Regions from separate parts of the Homo sapiens genome. Here region 1 is linked to region 2. Evidence: fine-mapped expression QTL. A gene starts in region 2. The other region holds a variant in brackets. All regions are shown on one strand. Distances are between the middles of the regions.

Region 1 (15,116 bases), 130 kb after region 2:
AGAATAGGTAGAAAAATAGTTCAAGTGAAGATGTGGCTACTGTACTTCATTACACTCTTTAGAACTTGGCTTTCAACTTATTTTTTTTTCTTCTTTTTAAGACAATATTTAATGAATGCTGCAACAGTTTAACTCTCCTGACTAGCATCACATTAGTGTTAATGTAAAATCCTAGGCATGGTGTATTTCTTACACACAATCTGAATTAACTCTGCATCATTTTAAGCCTGCCCTTACAGTCCTAGATCGAAATATTCTGAACTAAACAATATGATATGACCCAAGACAGACACTGGCTGTGTTTCTACCAAGCCACGTAGAAAACTGAGGGCAAAGAGCAGTCTGTCAGACCATTGCTACAATCCTCCATGGCATATGACGAGCCTTTTTAAGATATCCAGGTTTTAAATACGATGGTAGGAAAGAAAGGTGAGGACCCTGGAGGTGAGTACACCCTATGGTCTTGCTGAGGCTCAGCCCAGGCTTGTCATACAATTTTCTGCCAAAGTGACATTCTCTGGGAAGATGGCCTTAGGACTGTCCTTATTTTACTGAAGACAGCATTCCTTGTCTTCTACTTAATGACTTTCTCTGAATTTGGGAATTAAACTGTAATGGAGTCTCACCCTATTGCCCAGGCTGGAGTGCAGTAGCGTGATCTTGGCTCACTGCAACCTCCGCCTCCTGGGTTCAAGCAATTCTCCTGCCTCAGCCTCCTGAGTAGCTGGGATTACAGGTGCATACCACCACGCCTGGCTAATTTTTATATTTTTAGTAGAGATGGGGTTTCACTGTGTTGCCCAAGCTGGTCTTGGAATTACTGACCTCAGGTGATCCATCTGCCTCGGCCTCCCAAAGTGCTGAGATTATAGGCATGAGCCGCCATGCCCGGCCTTGATTTTAATTTATTTCACAGTAGTTTGGAGATAAGGAAATACTTCTCTGTATGGAGACACAGATGCACTCATAGTTTCAGGGACAGTGTCTTCAGTAGAGATAAATTTATAAAGCCTCATTATCAATAGTGACAGCACAGCCATACATTTGCCTCACATGATGTGCATATTTATTTTGCATTGTTTACTTGTTCATCAAGGAACTCAAATAGGAAGAAAACAGATTATGAAATAAAACTTAAGTTTGAAATTAATTTTAAAATTATTCCTGAAGAGGAAGTCCTAGTCAGAGTAATCAGACAAGAGAAAGAAATAAAGAGTACCCAAATTGGAAAAGAGGAAGTCAAACTATGTCTGTTTGCCACTGATATGATCTTATACCTAGAAAAGTCTAGACTCCTCCAAGACTCCTAGATTTGATAAATGAATTCAGTAAAATCTCAGGTTACAAAATCAATGTACACAAATCAGTAGCACTGCTATATACCAACAATGACCAAGCCAAGAATCAAATCAAGAACTCAATCCCTTTCACAATAGCTACCAAAAAAATAAAATACCTAGGGATATACTTAACCAAGGAGTTGAAAGATGTCTAAAAGGAGAGCTACAAAACACTGCTGAAAGAAATCATAGATGACACAAACAAATGGAAATGCATCCCATACTTATGGATTGGAAGAGTCAGTATCACAAAATGACCATATTGCCCAAAGTAACTTACAGATTCAATGCAATTCCTATCAAAATGCCAATATCATTTTTCACAGAATTAGAAAAACCAATCTTGAAATTCATATGGAACCAAAAAAGAGCCTGAATAGCCGCCAAAGCAATCCTAAATAAAAATAACAAATCTAGAGACATCACATTACTCAACTTCAAATTATACTAAAAGGCTATAGTAACCAAAACAGCATGGTACTAGTATAAAAGTAGACACATAGAGCAATGGAACAGAATTGAGAACCCAGACATAAAGCCAAATACTTACAACCAACTGATCTTCAACAAAGTATACAAAAACATAAACTGGGTAAAAGACACTCTCTTCAGTAAATGATGCTGGGAAAACTGGCTAGCCACATGTAGAAGAATGAAACTGGATCCCTATCTCTCACGATATACAATATAACTGAAGATGGATTAAAGACTTAAATCTAAGACTTGAAACCATAAAAATTCTAGAAGAAAACCTATGAAAAACTCCTTTGGACACTGACCCAGGCAAAGAATTTAGGACAAAGACCCCAAAAACAAATGCTGCAGAAACAAAAATAAATGGGATCTAATTAAACTGAAAAGCTAATGCAGACTGGGCATGGTGGCTCACGCCTGTAATCCCAGCACTTTGGGAGGCCAAGGTGGGAGGATCACTTCAGGTCAGGAGTTAGAGACCAGCCTGGCCAACACGGTGAAACCCCATCTCTACTAAAAATAAAATAAAAAAATAGCTGGGCGTGGTGGTGCATGCTTGTAATCCCAGCTACTCGGGAGGCTGAGGCAGGAGAATCACTTGAACCAGGGAGGCAGAGGTTGCAGTGAGCCGAGATTGCACCACTGCACTCCAGCTTGGGTGAGAAAGAGAGACTCTGTCACAAAAATAAAATAAAATAAAATAAAATAAAATAAAATAAAATAAAATAAAATAAAATAAAATAACCATCAAAGTAAACAGAAAACCTACAGAATGGGAGACAATGTTTGCAAACTATGAATCTGACAAAGGACTAATATCCAGAATCTATAAGAAACTCAAACAAATTAGCAAGAAAAAAAAAATAATCCCAATAAAAAGTAGGCAAATGACATGAGTAGACATTTTTGAAGAAGATATGCAACTGGCCAAGAAACATATGAAAAAATGCTGAACATCACTAATCATCAGGAAATACAAATTAAAAGAATGAGATATCACCTTATTACAGCCAGAATGGCCATTATGGCCATTATTAAAAAGTCAAAAAACAATAGATGTTGGCACAGATGTGGTAAAAAGGGAATGCTTATACACTGCTGGTTTGAATGTAAATTAATACAACCCTTATGGAAAATACTGTGGAGATTTCTCAATGAACTAAAAGTATATCTACCATTCAATCCAGCAATCCAGTCACTGGGTATCTACCCAAAGGAAAAGAAGTCATTATATCAAAAAGACACCGGCACACTTATGTTTATCACAGCACAATTCACAACTGCAGAGATATGGACTCAACCTAAATGCCTATCAACAGATAAGTGGATAAAGAAAATTTGAGAGAGAGAGAGATATGCGTGTATATACACCCACACACACCATAGAATACTACTCAGCCATAAAAAAGAATGAACTAATGTCTTTTGCAGCAACTTGGATGGAACTGGAGGCCATTATTCTAAGTGAAGTAACTCAGAAATGGAAAAGCAAATACCGCATGTTCTCACATATAAGTGGGAGCTAAGTTGTGAGTATGCAAAGGCATACACTGGTAACGAGAACATTGGAGACTAGGAAGAGGGGAGGTCAGGAGGGGTTGATGGATGAAAAACTACATATTATGTACAATGTCCACTACTCTGGTGATGGGTGCACTAAAATCCCAGACTTCACCAGTATATAATTTATCCATGTAACCGAAAACCACTTGCACCCCTAAAGCTAATGAAAAAAAAATTCACAAAGAAAATGAATACTTATGTAGTTTGGAGGAATAATAAACAAATCAGCACTAGAGTTTGGAACAGTAAAGAAGTCACATCTGAAAACTCGTCCACATTTTCCGAGCATTGGGCAGAAACGACAGGAAGTTGTGAGGAAAGTTCTTGCCACCTACCATTGCTGCACGAGGCTTAGGTCTCTCAGGTCTCTTGGGATAACTCTCTGTCGGTGGAATTTCCAGCACTGGACAGGTAGGTAGGGAGGACCTCCAGGACCCACCACATGGACAACCACTTATTCCCCAGCCACAAGCCTCCCTTGGGTAAGCATGAGTCGGCCTGGCTGTAGCATCCACGCGCACCAACCCACTGCACCTTCAGCTCCTAACAAGCTGACAGGATAAAGTTTTACTTTGCTGGTTACATTTGCTCCTTTATGCCTGTTCTACAGAGACTCACCATGGTGAGCAAAACTATTCAACTATCTTTAAAATAATACCTGAAAAGTCTCTTGAGGGAAGCGTGCCCCTATGCTTCTGAATAGCATCTTTGTAAGAAGACAGGTTTCCCTTCATGCCCCACGTTGTGTACTTGGATGCTTTTTATACTTTTCCCACTATACTGTGCGCTGGGCTTGCTGGGACATTCTTCCCGTTTTCCCACCATGCCATGCGTGCTGGGGCGTTCTTCACGTTTTCCCATCATGTCTTGCATGCTGGGAGGTTCTTTCCGTGTTCTCACCATGCCGGGCATGCTGGGGCGTTCTTCAGGCTTTCCTGCCATACTGTGCTTGCTGGGACATTATAATTATGTTTTCCCACCATGCCTTGCATGCTGGGGCATTTTTCACGTTTTCCCACCATGCCGTGCTTGCTGGGGAGTTCTTCAGGCTTTCCCTGCCGTACTGTGCATGCTGGGACGTTCTTTACGTTTTCCCATCATGCCGTGGGTGCTGCCACGTTCTTCCTGTTTTCCCACCATCCCATGTGTGCAGGGACGTTTTTCACGTTTTCCCACCATGCCATACGTACTGGGGTATTCTTCAGGCTTTCCCTGCCATACTGTGCATGCTGGGATGTTCTTTATGTTTTCCCAACATTCTGTGTGTGCTGGGATGTTTTTCACGTTTTCCCAGCATGCGTTCTTCAGGCTTTCCCTGCCGTACTGCGTATGCTGGGACATTCTTAATGTTTTCCCACCATGCCGTGTGTGCTGGGGCGTTCTTCAGGCTTTCCCTGCCATACTGTGCATGCTGGGACATTCTTCATGTTTTCCCATCATGCTGTGCGTGCTGGGACATTCTTTACATTTTCCCACCGTGCTGTGTGTGCTGGGACCTTCTTCATATTTTCCCACCATGCCGTGCCTGCTGGGGCGTTTTTCCTGCGTTCCTGCCATGCTGCATGTGCTGTGAAGTTCTTTGGCTTCTCCTCCACTACTGCTTTTCCCCCACTCCCTTGGGTGTTAATTGAGACAGTGTCTCTCTCTTGTGGGCCCTGCTCTGCCTCTCTGGCCCCCTCTGAATTTCCTTTATGGGGTTTTTTTTTTGGTTTGTTGGTTTCCACACACCTATTTAATATCTGTGGGCTCAGGGGTCTTCGTTTTTGACCTTTTTCTCCTCTCAGATCAGCACTGGCTAGCAAAGCTCATCCCCTCCGTGGCTTGCTCCGTTTTCAGCTTGCTGGGATCTGTGTCTCTGCCAGAGGCTCTTCCTTTAGACCCATGTGTGCCAGGACCCCTGCACCTATGCTTGATGGATCCCTTACAAGCAGCGAGACCCACACCCCCGTCTGGCCCACACGCATTCCTGCAGTGCTGGGTCCTCTCCTTACTGGCCATCTAGACAGGATTATATTTTCAAATTACACCATGCATATTTTACTAAAATATTCAATAGATTCAGCTAAACACTTCATAAGAAGCTTTTTTTTTTTTTTAAATTTTCACATGGAAGAATTCAAGAAATCATTTTGGCTTGAGCCCCTCCTTTGCAACCTAATGGACCATTTTGACTTGTCACAGAGCTAGCCTGAAGCGTCATTCCTAGAAAATGATATTGGTGGGCCAGAAGTCCCTCAGGCGTGTCCCCTTAAATGTATGTAGATTATGAATCTGGGAATGTTCTGATCTGATTGAGGGTTCCTCTTTTGTTTGGTTTACGTGCCTAATATTTGGCCATTTAATCCATCAAATGAGGACAGTGGGGAAAATTAAGAAGAAAATGACTGAGTGGAGCCTATAATAAAACAATACAAAGCAGAAGTGGCACCTTGAAGCAGAAAGAGCGCATTTAGGCGCTGAATTGATGTGAGTGTGCTGGTGGATAGTTTTGTTACTGGGAACACAGACGAGAGTCTAGGAAATTACAGAGGCATGTAAAAGCAGCAGGGTGTCCCAGATACCTGCGCCTAATAAGCTTAGTGCAAACATCTGCATCCCACTGCACACTGCATCTGCCTGTTTCCTAAAGTGATCAGTTTGGATTTTTCCCTTATCATTGCTCTTTTGATGAATCCACCCATCGCAAGTCTAGTAGCAACCAAATGCTTCACTCAGTGCTGTGTCATTTTGCTGTGGACGCACACCCAGGACCTCCTTACTTTTTTTTTTTTCTTTTATCTACTCATCACTTTTTTCTCCAATTGCCCCAACATTTCAAATGGGGCAAAACTTTATAGTTATTATGTTCTAGAGGGACCAAGAATTACTCAGGATATAGGTACTTCTGTCTTCTTGGGACATTTTCTCTAAAAAATATTAACAATTGCATTTCATGACCCAGCTAGTGTATAAATATATTAGTACTATAGTTTAAATCATTTTCTCTGACGCAACAGTTCCTTTTTTTTTTTTTTTGCCTCTGAGTTTAGAAGAATTTAAAACAGTTTCATAAGCCCCTAAAAGTATCGTGGATCTTTTTCAGATATCTGGGGTATGAATTATAGAGATAAACACAAAATTCAATGTAATACCCCCATTGAAGAACTATCGGGAAAGTGGTGAATTCTTCTATATGATCACCCAAAGCATTCCATGAGTCCCGCCTCTGTGTGGTTTCCCTGCCATCTGTCCAGGAATTAGCTTATATAGCTCCACCTGTCATTTGTAATGCTGTTTTCAAGGACAACCATTGGATGT[G/A]CCGGTAACTGCAAGGGATTAAGCATTTCAGATTATTGTATATTGGCAAGCTCTAAACTTTTACACAACTTCATTGATAATGGCCTCTAGTTGTGTTGTATCTTTAATAATGTTGAAAGTGATTTCACATATTTTCTAAAAGTGAGAGGAAAAATACATAAATTTTAATAAGGAACAATTAATATAGTTTAAATCACTCAAACCCAGACCTTTGGAAGGTGATTTTCCAAACTCCCAACGTGGGATCCTCACTAACGTTCTGTGTGACTTGCCACCCCTCTACCTATGTAAGAGGTTCCTAAGGGTCCCAAGGCAGAGCTGGACTGCCCGTGGTCCCTCCCACCCTGCCCCTGTCATTCCCCATGGTCGTGCATTGTCACTGTGCCTCTGACCCCCTTTGTGGCACCTGTGATTCATGGACACTACAGAAAAGACCTTGAGTTCTTGCCAGATGGCCAGCTTCATGGGGATAAGAGCCTCATCTGTCCTGCTGGGGGCTCAGGAGGTGCCTGCACAGATGTGCTGAAGGTGTAAAAGCACATGGTCTGTGAAAGAACAGAACCAACCAATGACGCTGCTGACTTACTCCAGGACGTCTGTGAAAGAACAGAACCAACCAATGACGCTGCTGACTTATTCCAGGACGTCAGCGAAAGAGCAGAACCAACCAATGACGCTGCTGACTTATTCCAGGACGCCAGTGAAAGAACAGAACCAACCAATGACGCTGCTGACTTATTCCAGGACGTCAGTGAAAGAACAGAACCAACCAATGACGCTGCTGACTTATTCCAGGACGTCAGTGAAAGAACAGAACCAACCAATGATGCTGCTGACTTATTCCAGGACGTTTGTGTGTGAAAGAACAGAACCAACCAATGACGCCGCTGACTTATTCCAGGACAAATCAACCTAGTGGGGATTTGCCCAACTCTAAAGATACCCTCAGTGGCCGGCCACGTGCAGAGCCCTAGGCAGGCAAAGGAAGCGTGCCGGGAAGGAGAGGTTCCTGCTTGAGTCCCTGCGGCTGGTCCCCATGCTCTAAGCGATCCCAGCCCTGATGGGCCCTGAGTGCCCTGCAAAGGGCTGTGCTCTCCAGCCACGAGGACACTTTCAAACCGATGGCAGGGACTTAAATGAAGTGTTTAAAAATTCAACTTACCTTTAAATGGGCAAATATTATCATATAGTTTAGTATTTTGTCCCATTCAGTCTTTTTTCACCCTATCTTGGGGAAGGCATCAATCTAGTGGTGAAGATGGACCAAGCCAAGGTTGAGTTAGATGTGGTAGCCTGTTTTTGTTTCTTCCTATGATGGCTTGTCATTTGTGTAAGAATTGGTTTTTGGTTTTCGACATGAAAGAAACAAACGTTAACAATTTTCAAAATCATGGTAAGGAATCCGTGGTCTTTCGTGGGCTTTGTGTTGGGCTCCAGGACCTCTGCCTAAGGTCCTGGAACTCCTGGTGAGCCCCTTCCCTCCTGGGCTCTGGCCCTCCCTGGACCCTGACTCAGGGAGCTGCTGCCTGTGCGGAGGAAAGGCCCGTCTTCCGTTTCTTTTTGTTTGTTTGTTTTGAGACGGAGTCTCGCTCTGTCGCCCAGGCTGGAGTGCAGTGGCATGATCTCGGCTCACTGCAAGTTCCGCCTCTCGGGTTCACGCCATTCTCCTGCCTCAGCCTCCCGAGTAGCTGGGACTACAGGCACCCGCCACCACGCCCAGTTAATTTTTTGTATTTTTTAGTAGAGACAGGTTTTCACTGTGTTAGCCAGGATGGTCTCCATCTCCGGACCTCGTGATCCACCCACCTCGGAAAGTGCTGGGATTACAGGCGTGAGCCACCATGCCTGGGCTGCCATTTCATTTCCCCTTGTTTATTTCCAGGGCCTGGACTTTGCCGGATTCACTGCACACATGTTCATTGGGATTTGCCTTGTTCTCCTGGTCTGCTTTCCGCTCCTCAGACTCCTTTACTGGAACAGAAAGCTTTATAACAAGGAACCCAGTGAGATTGTTGGTGAGTACAAGTGCAACCTCATGTAGGCTCAGATTTCATGACCATAATATTGTTTGTTTACCAGGAGAAGTTCTTATTAGGAAGTATCTGTTGATGGGTTGCTGGATGCTCAATACCAGTGACTCTCCACGTCCACCTTCTAGTATACACTGTTTTCAGGGCTGCTATCATGAGCTGTGCCTCTTTAGTTTTCTGTGAAGTGTACTGTGGTAAAATGTGGGAAGTAATGGCCACCATGTACAACTCACATGTCATAACCCCCTAAAGCCACGTGTATATGGTACAAATACACTAACATATAGACTGCAGTGCTCTAATAGTGTATCATAGCTTGAGTCTTAAATATGACTGGAAATAACAGCAACATAACCCAGCACAGGAGGTGATGGGCCCTGTCAATCAAGAGCACATGCTAGGCCAGGCACGGTGGCTCACGCCTGTAATCCCAGCACTTTGGGAGGCCAAGGTGGGCGGATCACCTGAATCAGGTCAGGAGTTCGACTCCAGCCTGGCCAACATGGTGAAACCCCGTCTCTACTAAAAATACAGAAATTAGCCGGGCATGGTGGCACAGGCCTGTAATCCCAGCTACTCAGGAGGCTGAGGCAGGAGAATTGCTTGAACCCAGGAGGTGGAGGTTGCAGTGAGCCAAGATCGTGCCACTGCACTCCAGCCTGGGCGACAGAGTGAAACTCTGTCTCAAAAACAAACAAACAAACAAACAAACAAACAAACAGCAGATGCTGAGCACCAGCCAGCAGGATGAGGGCTTAGGGCCATCTTATCGTTTTGCATTTTCATCACTAAAACACTTTAGTAGATGTTTTACTGAGATCATTACTGATTAGAATATATTAGGAACAATAGATTATTTGGGAAACAAGCAGCCTTTCCTTGACGAGCTCCAGAATATGGATGCTGTGCAGGTTGCCTGGGTAACAGGGGCATCAGGCGACCAGAGCTCAGCAGATGAAGGCGCTCTTCTTTGGGAATTTGTAGAGCTCACGGATTGCATGTTGATCTCTCTCAGCCTTTGTGATTCTGCTGGCCTGTGTTTTACAGGATCTCAGTTTGTCTTTGTTCTGGATAAGATACCCAGATTCCATTTCCACATGGGTGGCTGGAGGCCACGACATGGTCCTGCCATACTCCAGTTCCTCCGATGCTGACTGTCCAAGACAGATCTGTGTGACTTTCATGTTATTCAGAATTTGAGTATTTAAAAAATCTCATTAAGAAAACATTGTTTTGCATTCCTCCTCAGGATTCATCTGTCAAAACAAGCTTGTTCTTGGGAATATCTACTCATCTTACCTGGGGGCTGGACCTAGTTCAACCCATAACAACTAGTTAGAGGTGTTTAGAATGTTTTATAATCAACTAATATATGCAAAGTAAGATAAATTAATATATAGGTTTCTTTTTCTGATGAAAATGTTAGAACTAAGGGAGAGTGAAGGAGACTGTGATCGTGGTGGATAATTGTCCTGTCTCTTGGAGCTTGTGTGTGCACAGCTGTGTCTTAGTGGAGAGCTCAACCGTCATCCTGCCCAACTATGCCAGCCTCTCCCAACCTCCCTGGTGATCACAGTGACCTGGGACAATTGTTGTATATGCAGATTTTCAGCGTCATCCCCAGGAATTCTGTGTTGTTAGTAAGCTGTCCTGAAGAGTCTAATCTTGAGATGAATTTGGGATACACAGATTTAGACACACAGAAAATAATCTCTGTAATGAATTCCTCACCGTTCCTGAGTAAGGAACAGAGAAAAGCTTCGAGGGAAGTGGGGAGTGATGGTTGGAAGTGGACACACCTGGTGATGCAGGAACCCTATGGCCGGGCTAAGACCAGCAGTGCAAGGTGGGGTGATTGCTCTGTGCCACTGTGGGGCTTAGAGGGCTCCAAATTTGGAGTGGTGGGTAAAACTGCAGATTCCCAAGCCCCACTCAAGAGATCTGAGTTTAGCAGGCCTGTGGTGGTGTACAGAGCATTGTCAGAACAGGCTTGGTTATGTTGCAGTGAAAAAGTAACCCTGAAATCTCAGTGACTTCCAGAACTGTGTTTTCTTCCTTGTGTTGGCTTTGTACCCCCCGCCCCCTCCCCAATGGACTGGCAGGGGCCCTGATCATCATCTGTTCTTAGAGTCCTGAGCGGCTAGCCTTGAAGGCAAAGAGAATAGCATGGTCCCATTCTGCCATCCAGTGACACAGGCAGGCCCCACCCAGTCACAAGGGACCAGGACAGGCCAGCCTGCCAGGTGCTCAGAATGGGAGAGAGCATGACTTACATGGTGAAAAGAACAATAATCACCAGAGCCTATCCCTCTGATCACCAAATGTTCAACTCATGCTGCTTCTTGCTAATACTTTGTTTAGCATTTTGTTTTTGTGTACATTAGGGATCTTGATTGTAGTTTCCTTTCTTGTAATGTCTTTTTTGTTGTCCTCATAGGAGGAATATGGAAATATTTCCTCATCTTCAATTTTTTGGAAGAATTTCTGTAGAATTGCTATTACTTTTTTCTTAAATGTTTATTTGGACATTTATAGGCCTGGATGTTTTTGTGGAAAGGTTTTTAACTACAAATTCAAATCCCTTAATATACATATAGGGATGGCTATTCAAGTTATCTGTTTCTCCTTGAGTGTTGACTGGTAGTTGGTGTCTTTCAAGGAATTTGTCCATTTAATCTAAGTTGTTGAATGTATTGTTATAAAATTGTTCATAATATTCTTTCATTATCCTTTTAAGGGCTATCAAATTTTTGATAATGTCATATCTCTCATTCCTGATGTTGGTAGTTTGATAGTTTGTGTCTTCTCTCTCTCTTTGGTTGGTTTATCAATTTTATTGATCTCAAAGAACCAGCTTTTGATTATATAGATTTTTCTCTACAATTTTTTTCTCTTTTAATAATGTCTATTGTGCTCTTTATTTATTTTTTTTCTGCTTACTTTCAGGCTTGCTTATTTTTTCACTGGTTTCTTAAAGTGGAGGCTAAGGTTATTGATTTTATGTGCATCTTATTTTCTAATATAGGCCTTTAGTGCTCTAAATTTCCTTCTAAGTATTACTTTAGTGGCCTCTCACTAATTTATTATTTTTATTTCATTTTCATTCAGTTCAAATTATCTTATAATGCATCTTTTTATTTTTTCTTTGATCCTTGGATAATTTAGATGGTTTATATACCTTCCAAGTATTTGGGAAAGTTTTTGCAGTTACCTAATTTAGTTCCACTGTAGTAAGAGAATATATTTCATAAATCTTGAATCCTTTAACATTTATTGAGGCTTGTATGGCTATAGAATGTGGTCTACCTTTGTAAACATTCTGTGTGCACTAGAAATGAAAACGTATTCTGCTCTTGTTAGGAGGGATGTTCAGTGATGTCAATTATATAGCTTAGGTCAGATTGGCTGATAATGTTATTCAAGTATTCTATATTCTTGCTGATTTTCTATCTACTTGTTTAATTATTGAGAGATGGATACAGACGTGTCTAAGGTTGATTATAGATTTGTTTATTTCTCTTTGTAATTCTATTATTTTGCTTTATGCATTTTAAAAGTTTACTATTAGGGCACATAAATATTTAGGATTGTTCTTTCATCTTGATGATTTAACACCTTGCTATAAAAACAATCTTTGCGATCCATGATAATATTCTTTGCTCTGAAATATACTTTGTTGTTAATATAACAATTTCATTTTTCTCTTGACTAGTGTTAGTGTGGTGTATCTTTTTCCATCTTTTTACTTTTAACTTATTTATATCTTTAAAGTACAGTTCTTGTAAGCAGCATATATTAGCATCCTGATTTTTTATCTACTCTGATAGTCTGTCTCTTAAACCATTTATATTTAATGTGCTTAGTGATGCGATTGAATTTAAGTGTAACATCATATTATTGTTTTATATTTGTGCTTCATTATTACCCTTTTCTTCATTTATGCCTTCTTTTGAATTAATTGAGTATTTAAATACATTCTATATTTTCTCCTCTGTTGGTTGTTACTTTTTTTGGCTTTAATTCTGTTTTGTGATTTTAGTGACTATTATACCACTAACTTTGAGCGATATTATACTACCTAACATACAGTAGAAGAACTTAACACTAGTATAGTTCCATTTCTCTCTTTCTGGCCTAGGCTTCTTCTCCTGAGATTCCCAGCTCTGAGCTCACTACTCTAGGCTTCCCTGGAAGCCATCACCTCCTGTGTCAGAGCACATCCCACACGGCACTTTCTTTGCCTGTTTGAAACATGTATGTGGCCACTCTAAGTAATACCATCAGAAGTTGGTTGAGAAGCTCAGAAAGATAGAGGCTGATAGAGAGGTAAGACATGGGATATCTGATGATGTCTCCTAGTAAGAGGCTAGGGTGGCAAAGACAAAGAGTTGAAACTTATATGGCAGAATCAGAGCTCACAATGGTGCTGGGCATTTGGGGTTTTGAGTCTTCTCTGAAGATCTTTGACATCTTTAGCTTTATTCTACAGGCCACGGGGAACTACTGGATATTTGAAAGAAGGAATTTATCTGTCTATCTTCTATTTATCTATCTGTAATCTATCATCTAATCTAGGAAATGATAGATCTAGGAAGATGATAGCTAGATAAATATCAGTCATCTTCCTATCATCTGGGAAATAGATTTATTTTGTTTTATTATTTTAATTAATTAATTTAAAAATGTTTAAATTATTTTTATTTTTATTTATTTTATTTTATTTCTCAATTACACTTTAAGTTCTGGGATATATGTGCAGAATGTGCAGGTTTGTTACATAGGTATACACATGCCATGGTGGTTTGCTGCACCCATGAACCTGTCATCTGCACTAGGTATTTCTCCTAATGCTATCCCTCCCCTAGCCCCCAACCCTCCGACAGCCCCCGGTGTGTGATGATCCCCTCCCTGTGTCCATGTGTTCTCATTGTTCAACTCCCACTTATGAGTGAGAACATTCAGTGTTTGGTTTTCTGTTCCTGTGTTAGTTTGCTGAGAATGATGGTTTCCAGCTTAATCCATGTCCCTGCAAAGGACATGAACTCATCCTTTTTATGGCTGCATAGTATTCCATGGTGTATATGTGCCACATTTTCTTTATCCAGTCTGTCATTGATGGGCATTTGGGTTGGTTCCAAGTCTTTGCTATTGTGAACAGTGCTGCAATAAGCATACGTGTGCATGTGTCTTTATAGTAGAATGATTTATAATCCTTTGGTTATATACCCAGTAATGGGATTGCTGGGTCAAATGGTATTTCTGGTTCTAGATCCTTGAGGAACCGCCACACTGTCTTCCACAATGGCTGAACTAGTTTACAGTTCCACCAACAGTGTAAAAGCATTCCTATTTCTCCATATCCTCTCCAGCATTTGTTGTTTCCTGACTTTTTAATGATCATCATTCTAACTGGAGTGAGATGGTATCTCATCGTGGTTTTGATTTGCGTTTCTCTAATGACCAGTGGTAATGAGCTTTTTTTCATATGTTTGTTGGTCGCATAAATGTCTTCTTTTGAGAAGTGTCTGCTCATATCCTTTGCCCACTTTTTGATGGGGTTGTTTTTTTCTTGTAAATTTGTTTAAGTTCTTTGTAGGTTCTGCATATTAGCCCTTTGTCAGATGGATAGATTACAAAAATTTTCTGCCATTCTATAGGTTGCCTGTTCACTCTGATGGTAGTTTCTTTTGCTGTGCAGAAGCTCTTTAGTTTAATTAGATCCCATTTGTCAATTTTGGCTTTTGTTACCATTTTTTTTTTTTTTTTTTTGAGATGGAGCCTTGCTCTGTCATGCCCAGGCTGGAGTGGAGTGAAGCAATCTTGGCTCACTGCAACCTCCACCTCCTGGGTTCAAGCAATTCTCCTACCTTAGTCTTCCAAGCAGCTGAGATTACTGGTGCCTGCCACCATGCCCAGCTAATTTTTTGTATTTTTAGTAGAGTCAGAGTTTCACCATATTGGCCAGGCTGGCCTCGAACTCCCGACCTCAGGTGATCTGCTCGCCTCAGCCTCCCAAAGTGCTAGGATTACAGGCGGGAGATAGATACATAGATACATAGATAGATAGATAGATAGATAGATAGAGCAAATGGTGTTTTATGATTAAGCAGGGGCAGGTTTATAGCAAGTGACTGTAGTTAAAGGTTACTAAGGAACAATAAGAATTAAGAAATGTGAGAGGGTGAGGCCTGGACAAGAAGGTAACCTAGGACAGGAAGAAGCAGACAAGGCAAGAGCTGTGCCAGCATATCCTGGGTGGCTCTTGAGGCTCACACTACCCTAGCGTATGTTTATTTATGATATATCTTATATCTCTTTCCAGTTTTGGAAGGCCATCTTGTAACTTACCAATGAAATTTTATCCTTTAGCATCAAACACAGATCTGACACCTGTGACACAATAATGTTAATG
Region 2 (15,116 bases):
CTCTGCCTCCCGAAGTGCTGGGATTACAGGCGTAAGCCACCGCACCCGGCCTTTTTTTTTTTTTTTTTCTTTTTTTCTTTTTTTAACTAAAAGCATACTAGAGGGCACTTCATTCCCACAAAAAAAAAAAAAGTGATTTTTGTAGCCACAGCTTCTTCATGTTTGGACAGGAGGACTCTCTCGGACAGTTCCATGTCACCTTCAGTTTAACTTTTTACTCTCATCCAACTTCCAAAGCCTGAAGTTATATAGTTCACTTTGACAGACAAATGTGTGCAGCCGAGACCATTAAACTGTAGAAAAGACAGACGACCCATCTGTGCTAGGAGTGGAAACTTGTCACATTGACAATTGTTTGGAAGCTCACCAGCATTGTGAATTGTGGATTAATTGTGGTTTCCTGCCTGTTTGCTTTTCTGCTGATAGAATCGGTGACAGTGGCTGTGCCCTTATGATGTGCATGAAACTGCAGTCTGCTTAGAGTTAGGAGAGCTTTACATGGTGCCCGACACCGTGGGCACCCTTAGCGTCTCCGACAGGAACTTCTGGTGGTGTCCGAATACGGCCCCCCGCGTTGTCCCCAGGGGCGGACTGCCTCCCCTCCAGGACTTTCTCCTGAGCCGGTGGGCCATGCCTTCTCCCCGCCTGTCGGGCATATCTTTGTGCACAGCCCGTGCGGCCTGGCCTGGCTCTGCGTCCCACGCTGCCGGTCCATCTTTCCCCCCAAATGCAGCTCCACAAGCGAGGCGGGATCGGCGCCAGTGCCCAGCCCGGGATAGCCCGGGGCAGGCGGCCACCCACCAGCAGGCCCTGGCGCGGAGGCATGCGGGGTGGGCTGAGCGCGGGGCCCCTGCGCGGAGGCTTATCCACGACCTCAGAAGGGGCTTCCGGCGCTGCTGTCGCTGGAAGGCATTTTGTGCTGGGCCCTGGCTGGCCCGGGGCTGGCCCCTGCGGCTGCCCGGGCTGTTGGAGGAGGGAGAGGTGGCGGCCTGGCCGGCGCGCACTTGCTGTTTCCATTCTCAGCGGACCCGCGCTGGGGTGGCCGCCGGCGGCAGCGGTCTTTCGGGCTCACCCTCAGGTTTAACCAGAAATCCGGGAGTAGCTGAGAGAGCTTCGGAGCTCCGTGCACTGTGCGCTGTCCTGACTTGCCAAAAAAGAAAGCAGAAAAACACCCAAAGCACGTTCGAGAAGAGAAGGGGGAAATCTGGGGTCTGCCCTTCCTTTAGAAAAGCCGAGGTTCAGGGTGAGAGCCCCTCTGAGCGGTCCTTGGTTGAGCTAGCGGAGCGGGGAGGCTCCCGGCGCCCCTGCGATGAGACCCCACCCTCACGCCGGCTGCGCCCCGGGACCTCCGCGAGGATTCGTCCGGCGGGCGCGCGAGCGAGCGGGGTCTCTTCGGGTTTCAAGCGGCCCCGGGGCCGGCGCCTCGTGACCCTGCCGGACTCTCCCTCCCCGCGCGGCAGCGAAGCGCATCACCGAGGCTGGGGCCGGGCTCACCGTGGGGCCAGAGCCCGCTCCCAGCAGGATCTCGGCGAAGACCAGCCCCCGCACGCCAGCCCGCCGGGTGGAAGCCCGGGGCACCAGGACAGGCCCGGAGGCGGCCGCGGGGCCCGGTACTGCCTGCGAGGAAGTCGCCTCTGCCCGGCCACGCCGCTCCTCCCGCAGCGGTGCTCCCGGGGTTGCGACCACAAACCTCGGCGCTCTCGGGGTGATGCCTGCTCCGCCACCAGGGCCCCCGCGCGCACAGCCCCCTCCCTGCGCTCGCTGTTGCCGGCAGCCGTGGAGGTTCAGGCATTTGGCGTGGCCGTGGTCGTGGGGAAATTCCCCGCGTGCGCCCGGTGCCCCCACCCTGCTGTGCGCTCCCCGCTCCTCATGCCAGGCGGGGCCGGAGGCCGGGGCCCGGAGGGTGGAGAGACCCTTGGGGACAACGAGGTCTCAGAGCACAAACGCTCAGCACTGCGGGTGACACCCCGGGTCCCAGCCCGGGAGCCCGCGGGTGGAGCCGCTCAGCCTTGCTCCTGGCTTGGCCCAGTCTGGCAACACTGCCTTGGGTACAGCCTCCTCCTGGGTGAGGGAGTGAGAGGCAGAACCCCCACCACACGCATGCTCCCCGCACCCCAGACGCGCACACACACCCACACACATGCATACACACACACCCCCAACACATGCACACACGCGCGCGCACACACACACCCCACACGCACACACACCCCCGACACATGCACACACACACCCCACACACACATGCACACACACCCACACACGCACACACACCACCCCAGACACATACATACACACACCCCACACACATGCGCACACACACACCCGAGGCACGTACACACACCCCTACAAACCTCACACACGTGAACACACCCCACAGAACTCCCCACACACATGCACACACACATACACTTCTCACACCCCACATGCACACACACCCCAGACACACATGCACACACACATCACAGACATGCACACACACACCCACACCCCACACATGCACACACACTCCACATCCCAGACACATGCACACACACCCCACATCCCAAACACATATGCACACACACCCCACACCCCAGACACACATGCACACACACCACACACATGCACACCCCCCACACCCGACACATGCACACACACCCCACACACCACACATGCACACACACCCCACACACCACACATGCACACACCACACACATGCACACACACACCCCAGACACACATGCACACACACCCGACGCACCACACACCCCCACACCACACACACACCACACACATCCTCACACCATACACACACCACACCCCCACACCACACACACCCCCACAGCACACGTACATACACACAACCTACACACATGCACACACACCCCACACCCCGGACACACATGCACACACACCCCACACACGCACACACACCCCACACATGCGCGCACACACCCCACCACACACACCCCCACATCCCACACACATGCACACACCCCAAACACCCCAGACACACATGCACACACACACCCCACACCACACACACACCGCACCATACACACACCACACCCACACACCCACATCACACACCCCCACACCACACACACACCCACACCACACCCCCACACCACACACACTACACACATGCACCCCCACACCCACACATGCACACACATGCGCACATAACCCACACACTCCAGACACACATGCACACACCCCCCATACACCCCCCCACACACATACCCCACACACACCAGACACATGCACACACCCCACATAAACACCAGACACACATGCGCACACCCCACACACACCACACACGCACACACACCCCACACACCAGACACACATGCACACACCCCACACACACCAGACATACATGCACACACCCCACTCAAACACCAGACACACACATGCACACACACCCCACACACACCAGGCACACGCATGCGCACACACTCCCATACCCCACACATGCACACACCCCACACAGATGAACACACACCCACCACACACATGTACACACACACCCATGCGTACACCCTCCCCCCACACCCCAGACACAAATACACCAAAACACACCCACACACCCACACGTACACCAACCCCAAACACACGTACACCCTATACACATACACATATACCCCCCACACACATACATCCCTTACATACAGCCCGTCACACACACCCCCCACAGACATACACACCTCCTAAACACATAAATCTTGGCCCCTTCACATACACTCACCCTCACACACACCGTCTTCCCTACCCTCTCCCCACCCCATCCCCCTCCCCATGCTGCCTGCAGCTGGGCAGGTGGGCAGGATGCGGAAGGAGAGCGCTGGGCCTCTGAAAAATTGGAACAAGGAAGGCCCCTGACAGGCCTGCCCTGGGTGGCCTGGACAGGAGGGTCGGGGCCTGAGGACATTCCTTGTCACTGCCAGGGACATGCCATGATGGCTCACCATGTCAGGAAGGGCCAGGCCCACTGGCAGCCAGTCTGGCGAGTGAGTCCTACTCAGGGTCCTCCAGGCCGAATCGCGCAGACCTCACTCCTCCCCGATAGTCAAGATAGTCAACACTTCAAACAGGGAATCGCTCAGGGCTACAGTGAGCTATGACCATGCCCCTCCCTGCAGCCTGGGCTGCACAGAGGGACCCCGTTTCTAAAACAAGAAAATACAAAAGATCGTTTTAAAAAGGTCTTCGAATGGGTCCATTCTGCATGGAGGCCAGCTCCACAGGGTGGGAGGCTTTTGTCTGCAGGACCTCCTGGGCCTCATGTCTCATGGGATCCAAATGCAAATGGAAACACACACGCACAGAGATACCAACTACTCAACATCCAGAAGCAATAGCAGGCACCTTCGTCCCTCAAGCTGCAGACTCCCGTGTCCAGCTTCGCTCCCCGCTGGAGCACCAGCTCTCAGGACCCCACTTTCTTCCCACCCCCACGGGCCTGGCCTCCCCATTCTCCTGCCACCCAGGGCCGCCCCTCCGCATGGAGCCTTCAGCTCAGGATGACCCGGGACTTGGGCCAGCCCCTCCCAGTCACAGGACCCACCCTCTTCAGGATGAAGTTTATAATCGTTTTTATTCCTGAGTCAGTCCTGGAGTTTTTGCCCATCCCACTCACTTTTCAAAATTGATTTTTTCCCCACAGACAAATGAGACTTTCTATTTTCCTCTAATTCATTAAAAGAAAGACATTATCGATCAGATGGTACAGAGAAGTCCCATATACACCCACCCCACACATGTAGCTTGCCCCAGTGCACATGCTGCCCACCAGATTGGCCCATGGGTTACACCAACACACCAGCATTATCCAGAGGCCTCGGGTTACATCGAGGCTCACTCGGGCAGTGCCTTCTGTGGGTTTGCACGAATGTTTAATGCCCTGTATCCGCCTTACAGTATCATACAGACTAGGGCCGCTGCCCTGAAATCCCCTCCAGCTAGTCATCCCTCCGCTCCCCACTAGCTCCTGACAGCCACCAATGTTTTTACTGTCTCCATAGTTTTACCTTTCTAGAAAGTCATCTAGTTGGAATCAGGCAGTATGCAGCCTTTTCCGATTGGCTTGTTTTACTTAGTAATCTGCATTTAAGGTTCTTCTGTGTCTTTTCATGGCTTGATAACTCATTTCTTTTTAGCTCTGAATAATAAATATTCCATTGTCTGAATGTACCCTAGTTTGTTTATTCATTCACCTCCTGAAAGGCATCTTGGTTGTTTCCAAGTTTTGGCAATGACAGATAAAACTGCTATAAACACCCGTGTGCAGATTTTGGGTGAACATAAGTTTTCAAATCATTTAGGTAAATACCAAGGAACATTGGTTGCTGCATCATATTCTAAGAGTGTTTAGTTTTGTAAGAAACGGCCCAACTGTCTTCCAAAGTGGCTGTACCATCTTGCGGTCCCACCAGCAATGAATGGGAGTTCCTGTGACTCCACAGCTCATTACATTTAAACATGTCTTTAAAGTCCGGAATTTAAGTTCAGAAGGTAGCATCATGCCCTCATGTTATGCAGCTCCTGCCTCCTAAAGCCGTGGTAACTTTAAAACATGGCTCTGGCCGGGCGCGGTGGTTCACGCCTGTAATCCCAGCACTTTGGGAGGCCGAGGTGGGCGGATCATGAGGTCAAGTGATCGAGACCATCCTGGCCAACATAGTGAAACCCCATCTTTACTAAACACACAAAAATTAGCTGGGTGTGGTGGCGCCCACCTGTGGTCCCAGCTTCTCAGTAAGCTGAGGCAGGAGAATTGCTTGAACCCGGGAGGCGGAGGTTGCAGTGAGCCAAGATCACGCCACTGCACTCCACCCTGGCGACGGAGCAAGACTCCGTCTCAAAAACAGAAACAAACACAAAAAACATGGCTCCAATGTTCTTTGACATTCCTCCCCTCAAGAACTGGTGTCTGTGTCCTTCCTTGGGCTCCTTGACTGCTTGGCCAATAGAATATGGCAGAAATGACACCTGCCAGTCCTGGGTGCAGGCCCTAAGGAACTGGTGGCTTCTGTTTCCTGTCTCTTGGGCCCCAGCTGCCATGCTGTAAGGAAGTCCAAGAGCTGGTGCAGGGGCCACGTGGCAGAGCCGACAGACCCGCCCTAGAGTGAGCAAGTGCACCTCCGGATCCTCCAGACTCCAGTCATTTCCAGCTTTCACATTGCCCTGGCTGCAGTGGGGAGCAGACGAGCTGTTTCCACTGTGCCTTTCTGAATTCCAGACCCGCAGGATCTGGGAACTTGACAGAATGCTTGCTGAATCAAGCCAACTTCGGGCAGGGGTGGGTGCATAGGGTTTGTGGGCTGAACCATGGCAGGAACAGGCAGAGACTGGGGACTGCAGAGGCCTGCACAGCAGGTGGCCCCGGGGACCCCTGGGGAAGGATTCATAAAGGGAAGCTGTAGACAGATTTCCCCATGACGGGGCTGGAGGGCTGGGCTGGGAGGCGCTTTCTTCTCTCTGGATGCTGTGGTCTGGGGAGGCAGCGCTTTCCTGCACCCTCAGGCCTGCCCAATTCTGAGAGCTTCTCACTTTCCTGGACCATTGTCCTCTGAGTCACAACTGCCTGTCCAGGGCAAGAAGCCAAGGGTGCCTTCACTGGGTCACCCACAAACATAAAATATGCACATACACGTACACAAAAGCGACACCGCATCCCAGCCCTCTGCTTGGAAATAGCCACCTTTGGCTTTTATATCTGATTCCAATGGTGCTGTTCTTTGCCAAGAACATTTAGGGGGACCTTATTTTGGGATTTCCTTCTGGAATTTCCTTGGCCAGCCAAAAAAGTATAATTCTATATCATATCTTGTTTGGGACCCAAATCTTCATGCTCAGGAGAAACCACATCATTTCTGAGACTGGCCCCAATCACTTGTAACTGAAGAAGCACGGTGCCCCTTGAAGGCAAGTTTGGCTGTTCGAGTCACACACAGGCTTCCATTGATGCATCTGCAGGCAACACTCACTCTCAGCCACCAGGAAAGGAAACCCCATCTGGCCCTGAGGGTCAATCAACCAAGGGGACTGATTGACGGCAGCTAAGAAGCCCAGAGACAGTGAGCATGTGGCTGTGCTGGGTGTGGGTGCCTGTCGGCTCGCGGGGGGGCTTTGTCACCCCTCAGCTGCCGCCAGGGCTGGGACACATAGATTTGGCTCACCCGAGCCAGTCCCTGGCATGGAAGTTGGGTTTCCTCCATTACTGTGGCCACTCAGGGTCTATCCCTGGAGCTGGGGTAGGGTTGCTCCTTCCCCATACATTCAGCAGTTACACAAAAACAACTGTGACCTGCAAGGCACAGAGAGCCACACGCTTGGCCGCAGCTGTCCTGCTGGCGTTTCAAAGCCCGCATTTCGACAGATCTGCGTGCACACCAAGAGCCTTCTGCCCACTCAGGGAGCCTCCCCCGGGCTCTGTGCCCCAGCCCCTTCCCGCCCTGTAACAGTGTCCCTGAGGCACTGGGAGGGGAGCAGGTGCAGTGATGAGCGAGGAGGAGACAGTATTTCTGGGACGGGAACTGGTGCATCGGTGGTCACAGGCTCCCTGGAGCCGCCATCCCACAAGGATGGGGGTCACCATGCAGGCTGCTTGCCAGCCATATCCACACCTAACGCACACGGCGGTCTGAACTGAGGGGTCTGCACATGCGACAGTGAATGTGGTCTCAGAGATCTCGGGCTCTCCTGCTGTCAGGGCCCTGGCTGGGAACTTCAGTGTCCTGGAGCCTGCCATGCCGAGGACATCCTCGGTCCCTGCTACCAGGGCAACCCCTGGCCCACCCTGTGGCTGTGCAATGTGCTCTGTTATAAGGCATGAGATCTCTTTCAGCTCTGCTGTTACACTGTGGATGGAGCCTCTTACTTCCTGCCAATTCCTGTGCAGGGCCTGGCCACTGCAGCTGTGTGTGTGTCTGTAGCTGTGTTGTCTCCATGTGTTTGTGCGTGTATCTGTGTGTGTGTCTGTATCTGTGTGTGTATCTGTGTGTGTCTGTGCGTATATCTGTGTTTGTATATCTGTATATGTGTATCTGCGTGTGTGTCTGTGCATGTATCTGTGTGTGTGTCTGTATGTGTCTATGTATCTGTGTATCTCTGTGTCTGCGTATCTGTGTGTCTGTGTATCTCTGTGTGTAGATCTCTGTATCTGTGTGTATCTGTGCATGTGTGTATCTGTGTGTCTGTATCTGTGTGCCTGTGTATATCTGTGTCTGTGTATCTCTGTGTGTGTCCGTGTGTGTATCTGTGTGTGTCTCTGTATCTCTGTATCTGTATGTATCTCTGTATCTGTATCTGTGTGTCTGTACCTGTGTCTGTGTATCTGTGTCTGAGTATCTGTATATATTTGTGTGTGTCTGTGTATCTGTGTCTGTGTGTATATCTGTGTATCTGTGTGTATCTCTGTGCCTGTGTGTGTGTCTCTGTGTATCTGTGCATGTGTCTGTGTGTATCTGTGTATGTGTGTCTGTGTATCTGCATGTGTCCTTGTGTGTCATCTGTGTATCTGTGTCCTGTATCTGTGTGTCTGTGTATTGCTGTGTCTCTGTGTGTGTCTCTGTGTATGTGTATCTGTGTATCTGTGTCTGTGTATATCGTGTCTATCTCTGTATCTGTGTGTGTGTCTGTGTGTATCTGTGTGTGTCTGTGTATCTGTGTGTGTCTGTGTATCTCGTGTGTGTGTCTGTGCTGCAGGAGGGGCTGTCGGCAAGTGTAACCTTGGCGTCCTAGCTGGAGGGCCTCTCAGTGCCCGCTGGGAGAGCTCTGAAGGGAACAGAATGTTCACTGAGCATTTCCCCGTTCTTGTTCATAGGGAAAAGCCTGTCCGCAGTCCTGGGCCGCCTCTTTAGAGGTAAAGCTGGAAACTATCCCCGCGGAGAGCGCTGTCGGGGACGCCGGGGCGGCGTGGCCTTAGACGGAGCTGCTCTCAGCCCGCGCCGCCGGGGGCTGGGGAGCTGAGGGGCCGGGGGTGCGGAGCGGGCGAGCTGTGGGCGGGGCCATGTGGGCAGCTTTGTGGGCGTGGCCGGGAGGGGCGTGCTACGGGCGTGGCCGCACTGTGGGCGGGGCCGAGTGGGGAGTGCTGTGGGCGGGGCCGGGCCGGGGGCGTGCCTGGGTGGGGGACCCGCTGCGGGAGCGCCGAGCTCCCTCTGAGTTCTTACTTCGAAGGCTGTGCTCCGCTCACCATCCAGAGCGGAGGTGCGGACCTTAAACTCACTCCTGGAGAAAGATCTGCAAGTGCGCAGGTAAAGTGCACGTGCTCCGCGGTCGGGAGGAAGGAGGCGAGGAGCCAGACTAGCCTGGGAACAGGCAGGGAGGGTTTACACAGCCCCGGCTGAGTCGCGGCTTAGGAAGCAAGGCAAGTTCCCCTAAAGGTTAGTGTGCACAGACGGGTGCGACGGAGCCGACCTAGCGCGGCTGAGTCCGCCTGGGCCTGCAGCAGCTGCCCCCTGAGCACCCCCTCCGGCTCTCTGCCAGGCGACCCAGGAAAAAGTCGCCCCCTGGTGGGCCATGAGGTCATGGGTGGGGGGAGTTTGGAAAGGTTCAGACAGCAAATGTTCCACTTGAACTCCAGGGCAGCATCTGGCACTGCGGGGCCTCCTAGCCATGAGCCGTGGTCAGGCGTTTCCTTAGAATGGAATGCACTGGAGTGAAAACACTAAATCCCTCAAAGCTGCTTCTCTTTACTGTGGTCACACACAGTGAAATCAATGGGCATTAGTGCAGCTAGCTCTTTTCAAGGACACAATGTTAAGCACAGGAAGCCTGGTATGTGGACGCTCTGGGTTTGCAGAACCAGGCAGGGGCCAGGGGCTCAGGACAAGTGCCCGGTGCTCCCTTCCCATTGGGCGAATCAGAGCCTGGGGCCCGGCGGTGAAGCTCCCCAGGTGACTCTAATGTGCAGTGCACTTTGAGGAGCACTACTTAGACCAATGTGACAGTCTACAATGTGTAGATTTAGGGTGAGTGATTCTGAGGAAAAGAAACCCGAGGCTGTTAGCAGTTGTGGGCAGCTGCTGTCTACCTAAACCAGCTGCGGTTTGCTTGCTTGGTGAGCCTGAGCTTCGCGGGGCGGGCATGGCATCTGCCATCCAGGACCCTGGGACGGGGCCTGCCAGGGCAAGGAGCTGAGCATTGAACGCATCTGGGGATAACTATCTCTCATAGAAGAACTAATGAGGATTGAACCTGAACACAGAGATGAAAGAGCTGAGTAGACTGCAAAGAATTGCACAAAAACTGCTTGTTCTGCAAATTTAGTTTACAACAATTTGAGTGCAGTTCACATTGGTGTAATGTGATTTAGGATCATAAGTCCCTAAAGTTTCATTACACTGATGAAAAGCAAATGCCTATACTGTTCTTGTTTTATGAGAAGAACGCAACCTCCAGCCCCTGGAGCAGCTGAGATCTGAGGATATCAGGAATACCAGGAATGGGGAGGTCCTGGCTGTCCCTGGAAACCCAGCGGCATGACACCTGTGTCACCTGGGTCCCCGTTTCTATGCTGGAGTGGCAGGCAGCAAGGAAATATTTTGAGTTTGAGGCCATATGCATTTTGGAAAGATCACTGTGGCTGGGGGGTTGGGAGCAGCTGGGGAGTTGAAGAAAGCCACTGCCAAGGCCTTCCCACTGAGTGTGGTTGCCAGGCCGGGGCAGGGAAGCACTGGTGAGCTGCAGGGGGGATTCCCAGTTGGTGATGGGTGATGGATGGTGGGATCAGTGGGCCCCTGGGAAAGGCCAGGTGTGGCTTCAGCACTCTGGGAGTTTTGGGTACCTTTATGTCTAGGGACACAAAGAGGTAGATGGACACAGTGGTTTGAGCTGCAGAAGAGAGTTGGGCGGCCACCTGTCCACAGGTGAGGATGAGGTTTCTTGGGAGAGTAGAGAGAAAGGGGAGGCTTTTAACTGTTAGTAGTGGAAAGATGGCTTGCAATGGAGATAAAGGCTACCACAGAGGGGAGGAAAGCCCAGAGCCTGGAGGCCAGGGGGCAGGATCTGGGGCAGGGGCTGACCCAGTGTGGCATTCTCCATATGCTGGAAATGTGAGAAGAGACTCCACAAGCCGGAGCTCCCTCAGCTCCTTGGGGCCGCTGGCTCTACCAGCTCACTCGCTGGTTGTTGGGTTTCCGCAGTTTCCATTTGGGGTTCTGTCACTGACCTGCAGGCAGCCGGCTTGTCGCGGGCTGTGGCTCTTGCGCCGGCCACCCGCGGGACCCGCGCAGTTTCGGCGGAGCGCGGCGGGGTCCGTGTGGGTCCGACCCGTGGGGAGGTGTGGCTGGCGCGCCTGTGCTCTCGGCCCGGCCACCCACTGAGGCGCCAGGAGGCGCATTCCGCAGGGCGGCGGGGAGCAGGTCCGGTGTTTCGAGGAGCATGGGACACAGTTTCCAAGCTGGCCTGCAGGATGGGCGAAGGGACACCGAACTACAGCGGCACAGCGCCGGGCCAAACTGCCCGCAGCTGGGGTAGCAGAGGAGGCTTGCGGCAGCGGCGCCGCGGGGAGGGGTCCTGGCCCCGGGCTGGGAGCGGGGCTGGGCGGCCGCGTGCCCGGCTGCGCGTTTGCTGGCGCTGCTCGTTTCTCCCCGAGAGGTGCGCCTGGCCTGCCGCGGGGCCGCCAGTCCCGGGGGGCCCTGCGAACGCGGCCCTCGGCAGAGCCCACCCGCGGCCTCCCGAGGCCCTCTCCCGGGCCCCGCCCCTCCTCCCAGGCTGGAAGGAGGCGTACTCTTTCAAACAAGAACAGAAAACGGATGGAAAGCCACGATGTTTGGCTTAACGTTCTAGAAGCTTTTAACCAAGTTCACATGTTGAAAAATCCACCTGAAGGGATATACGGTCACACTCGCGGTCTCGGTCCAGGCCCGAAGTGGGGTGGGGGCACCGCACCCTACACTGCCCTCAGCGGGACACCCCTGTCTCAGCCCAGGACCGGCTGAGGAGGAGGCTGACCCCTGGACGGGCTTCTTCAGGCCTTCTTGGCCGCAGGGCTTCTCCTGCCCCCTCCCTGGGATCCGGGAACTAGAAGGAATGCTTCAAATGCAACGGTCACAGCATCGCTCCTGCGGACACCGCCAGGCTCCCGAGACACGGCTACGCCTCCGGCTCACAGTCACGCCCGACACAGACAGACCACCTCCAACGAAAAGCCACGCCCCCGGAGACACGACCACACCTCGGAGACAGGCCATGCCCCCGGAGACACTACCAAGCCCCAGAGACACGACCACGCCCCAGGAGACACAACCACGCCCCGGAGACAAGCCATGCCCCCAGAGACACGGCCACGCCTTGGAGACAAGCCACGCCCCCGAGACCAGCCACCTCCCGGAGACACGACCACGCCCCGGAGACAAGCTACGCCCCCGGAGACACATTGACGCCTTTGCAGACGCAGCCAGGCCCCCGGAGAGAAGGGCCGTGCTCCGAGAGACACAGCCATGCCCTGTGGACCCAGCCAGGCCCCTGCAAGCATAGCCAGGGGCGGTTTCTCGCTCAGAGGGACGCCTTGGGGCTGAGCAGCGCATTAGGGACGATTTGGGGCCAAGCAGCGCTTTGTGGGGAGGGGAGCGTTCAGTGACGGGTGTTTTCTCTGGATGTTAGACACTGTCCACCAGAGGGGAGTTGGCTGCAGAGGGACTGCCTTTCAACAGCCAAATTTTCACCTCAGCGCCTAAACCTGGTGCTTCTCGTTCCTTGCCGGTATTATGTCAGATATTTAAAGAACTCGAAGAACAATGTTCTTTTTTTTTTTTTTTTGAGACAGTTTCGTTCTTGTTGTCCAGGCTGGAGTGCAATGGCGCCATCTCGGCTCACCGTCACCTCCACCTCCCTGGTTCAAGCGGTTCTCCTGCCTCAGCCTCCCGAGTAGCTGGGATTACAGGCACGCGCCACCACGCCCGGCTAATTTTTGTATTTTTAGTAGAGACGGGGTTTCTCCATGTTGGTCAGCCTGGTCACGAACTCCTGACCTCAAGTGATCCGTCCGCCTTGGTCTTTCAAATTGCTGGGATTACAGGTGTGAGCCACCGCGCCCGGCCACAATGTTCTTAAGATTTACGAAGAAGCTGTTTTCCACACGCTGTTGATCGCCGCCACTGTGAAGTCGGCGTGCGGCGCCTGCTGCCGGCTGTCGTTTCACAGGGGCGGGGTGGGAGGGCCGCGGTCCCCCGGGCGCACCCGGGCGGGGAGTGCGCAGGGCGGCCTGGCTGGGCCACTCCTGCCCTCCCGCCGGGCGCCAACCGGGGATCCGCCAGCTCGAGCTCTGCTCCGAGTCCCGCAGACCCACCATGCCCGGAGCACTCAGCCGTGCGGCCACGGGCGTGCCAGTACCAGCGGGAAAGGCCGGGGCTGCCTGGACCTGGGCAGGAGGCGGTGACCCGGCCTAGCTTGAGCGCCGGCAGCACCGCTCTCTTGGCTGCTGCTCATTCACACCCGCAGGCCTGGAGCCTTTTCTTGGGCCGAGCAGGTGACCCAGGCTCCTGTACGCAGTGGAGAAGGGCCCAGGCGTGGAACGCCGTCCCCTTCCCGGCAGGGCAGGTGTCAGGACCACGCCCGGCGCCGCGCCCTGGCCTCTGTCGGTCCTGGCACCGGTGCCGTCGCCCCACTCCGCCCTGGGCACGGCTGCGGGAGGCGGGGCTCGGGCAGGCTTGGTGAGCGTCTGGCGCGCTCTGAAGGCCACGGCACGGCGGGGCGTTGAGGGCCTCGGAGAGAACGGTGCTGGCAGCAGGGGCGGCAGGAGGGGCCCGGGCCCACCCCCACCTCGCAGGGCCCGAGTTCGGGGGCACGGTTGCAGGCAGAAAGAGCGCAGAGCCGGAGAGAGGGCCGGCAGTAGCCCACACGAACGATTTGGGGTTGAGTGTGAGGACTGGAAGGTTCCACCGACTCTGAACCATCTATTTTTTTTTTCTAAAAATAAGCCACAACTATCTATTTTTTCTTTCTAAAATTTGGTGACTTCGGTGTGAGTCTTGCTTGGAAGGAGGGTCCTGGGCGCCATCGCGGGGAGGACCTGGAGGGGTGGGTTGGGGCTGTGGCATACTCCGCCCTGTGCCGCCGGCTTACAGCTCCCCTACCCCTCTCCCGCCAGCTGCAGGTGTCCCTACGGGCGGGAGCTCTGCCCAGGGTGGCCCTGCCCTAGGCAAGTCAAGCGCATGGGGCCCAATAAAGCAAAGCCAGGCTGAAGCTGTGGTTCCCGTGAGAGTGCAGCCACGGGCTGGGGTGAAGGGAGGGTCACCCCAGAGGACGGGCTGTGTGCTAGTGTGTTGGGGTCCCCCAGAGGTAGGCTGTGTGCTAGGGTGTTGGGGTCCCCTAGGAGACAGGCTGTGTGCTAGGGTGTTGGGGTCCCCTAAGGGACAGGCTGTGGGATTGGAGTGCTCCATCATCTGCATGAGAGGCGATGACCAGGTGGGACTAGGAGGAGTTAGGATGTGTTTGGAAGAACTGGATGAGGAATGTGTGAGAAAGAGGGAGAGTTCTGGGTGAGCAGAGGCCTCTGTCTCCCAGGGAAGAGGCAGGAAGTGAGGTGGAACGAGAGCCCCTACTCAACCCCGGACAACCACTAACCTGTTCCCCATTGATATAACTTTGCCGTTTCAAGAATGTTGTAGTCATGGAATCAGAGTAAATAGTCTGTTGGAACTTGCTTTTTTTCACTGAGGATTTTCACTCTGGATTCCTCTACGTTGCTGTGTATGAATTGTCTGTTCCTTTTGATTGTGGCGTGGTCTTCCCGGCATGCATGCACCGCAGCCTATTTCACACTCCCCTACGGACAGACGGCTGCGTGGCTTCCAATTTTTCATATAGCTTCTATGACCATTTGCGTGTAGGGTTTTGTGTGAATGAAAGTTTCATTTCTCTGGGATTAATGTCCAGGAGTGCAATTGTTGGCTGGTAGTTGCAATTTTAGTTTTTTTTTAAAAACTGTCAAACTGCTTTCCAGAGTGGCTGTACAATTTTACATTCCCATTGGTGATGCAGGAGTGAACCACCCTCTCGAGTCCTAGGCAGCTGGCGGTGTTGTCTCTGTTTTCTTTTTTCTTTCTTTCTTTTTTTTTTTTTGAGACGGTGTTTTGCTCTTGTCGCCCAGGCTGGAGTGCAGTGGCTCACTGCAACTTCCACCTCCT

Direction of the effects. Positions count from the first base shown, and alleles are read on the strand shown. Sizes are in standard deviations (SD) of each study's normalised expression.
In carriers of allele G in region 1, the expression in caudate of the gene that starts at base 9,148 in region 2 tends to be lower than with A alone (moderate effect, 0.45 SD a copy in GTEx).

The links. PIP is the estimated chance that this variant, and not a neighbour inherited with it, causes the effect. A credible set is the group of variants that fine-mapping cannot tell apart.
Region 1: its variant is the best candidate, but not a certain one, in a credible set for the expression of OCA2 in caudate (GTEx, PIP 0.64).

Annotation. Positions count from the first base shown.
Region 1 is chr15:27,960,263-27,975,378 of GRCh38, reverse strand. It overlaps OCA2 (OCA2 melanosomal transmembrane protein), which reads left to right. Exons shown (of 24, transcript NM_000275.3): 15 at 8,557-8,689. Among named protein-coding and RNA genes, the nearest start is that of OCA2, 130 kb to the left of the region's middle. The variant G/A (reference allele first, on the strand shown) is at 6,675.
Region 2 is chr15:28,093,347-28,108,462 of GRCh38, reverse strand. OCA2 (OCA2 melanosomal transmembrane protein) reads left to right here and starts at 9,148. Exons shown (of 24, transcript NM_000275.3): 1 at 9,148-9,239. RefSeq lists enhancers at 138-698, 699-1,260, 9,201-9,853.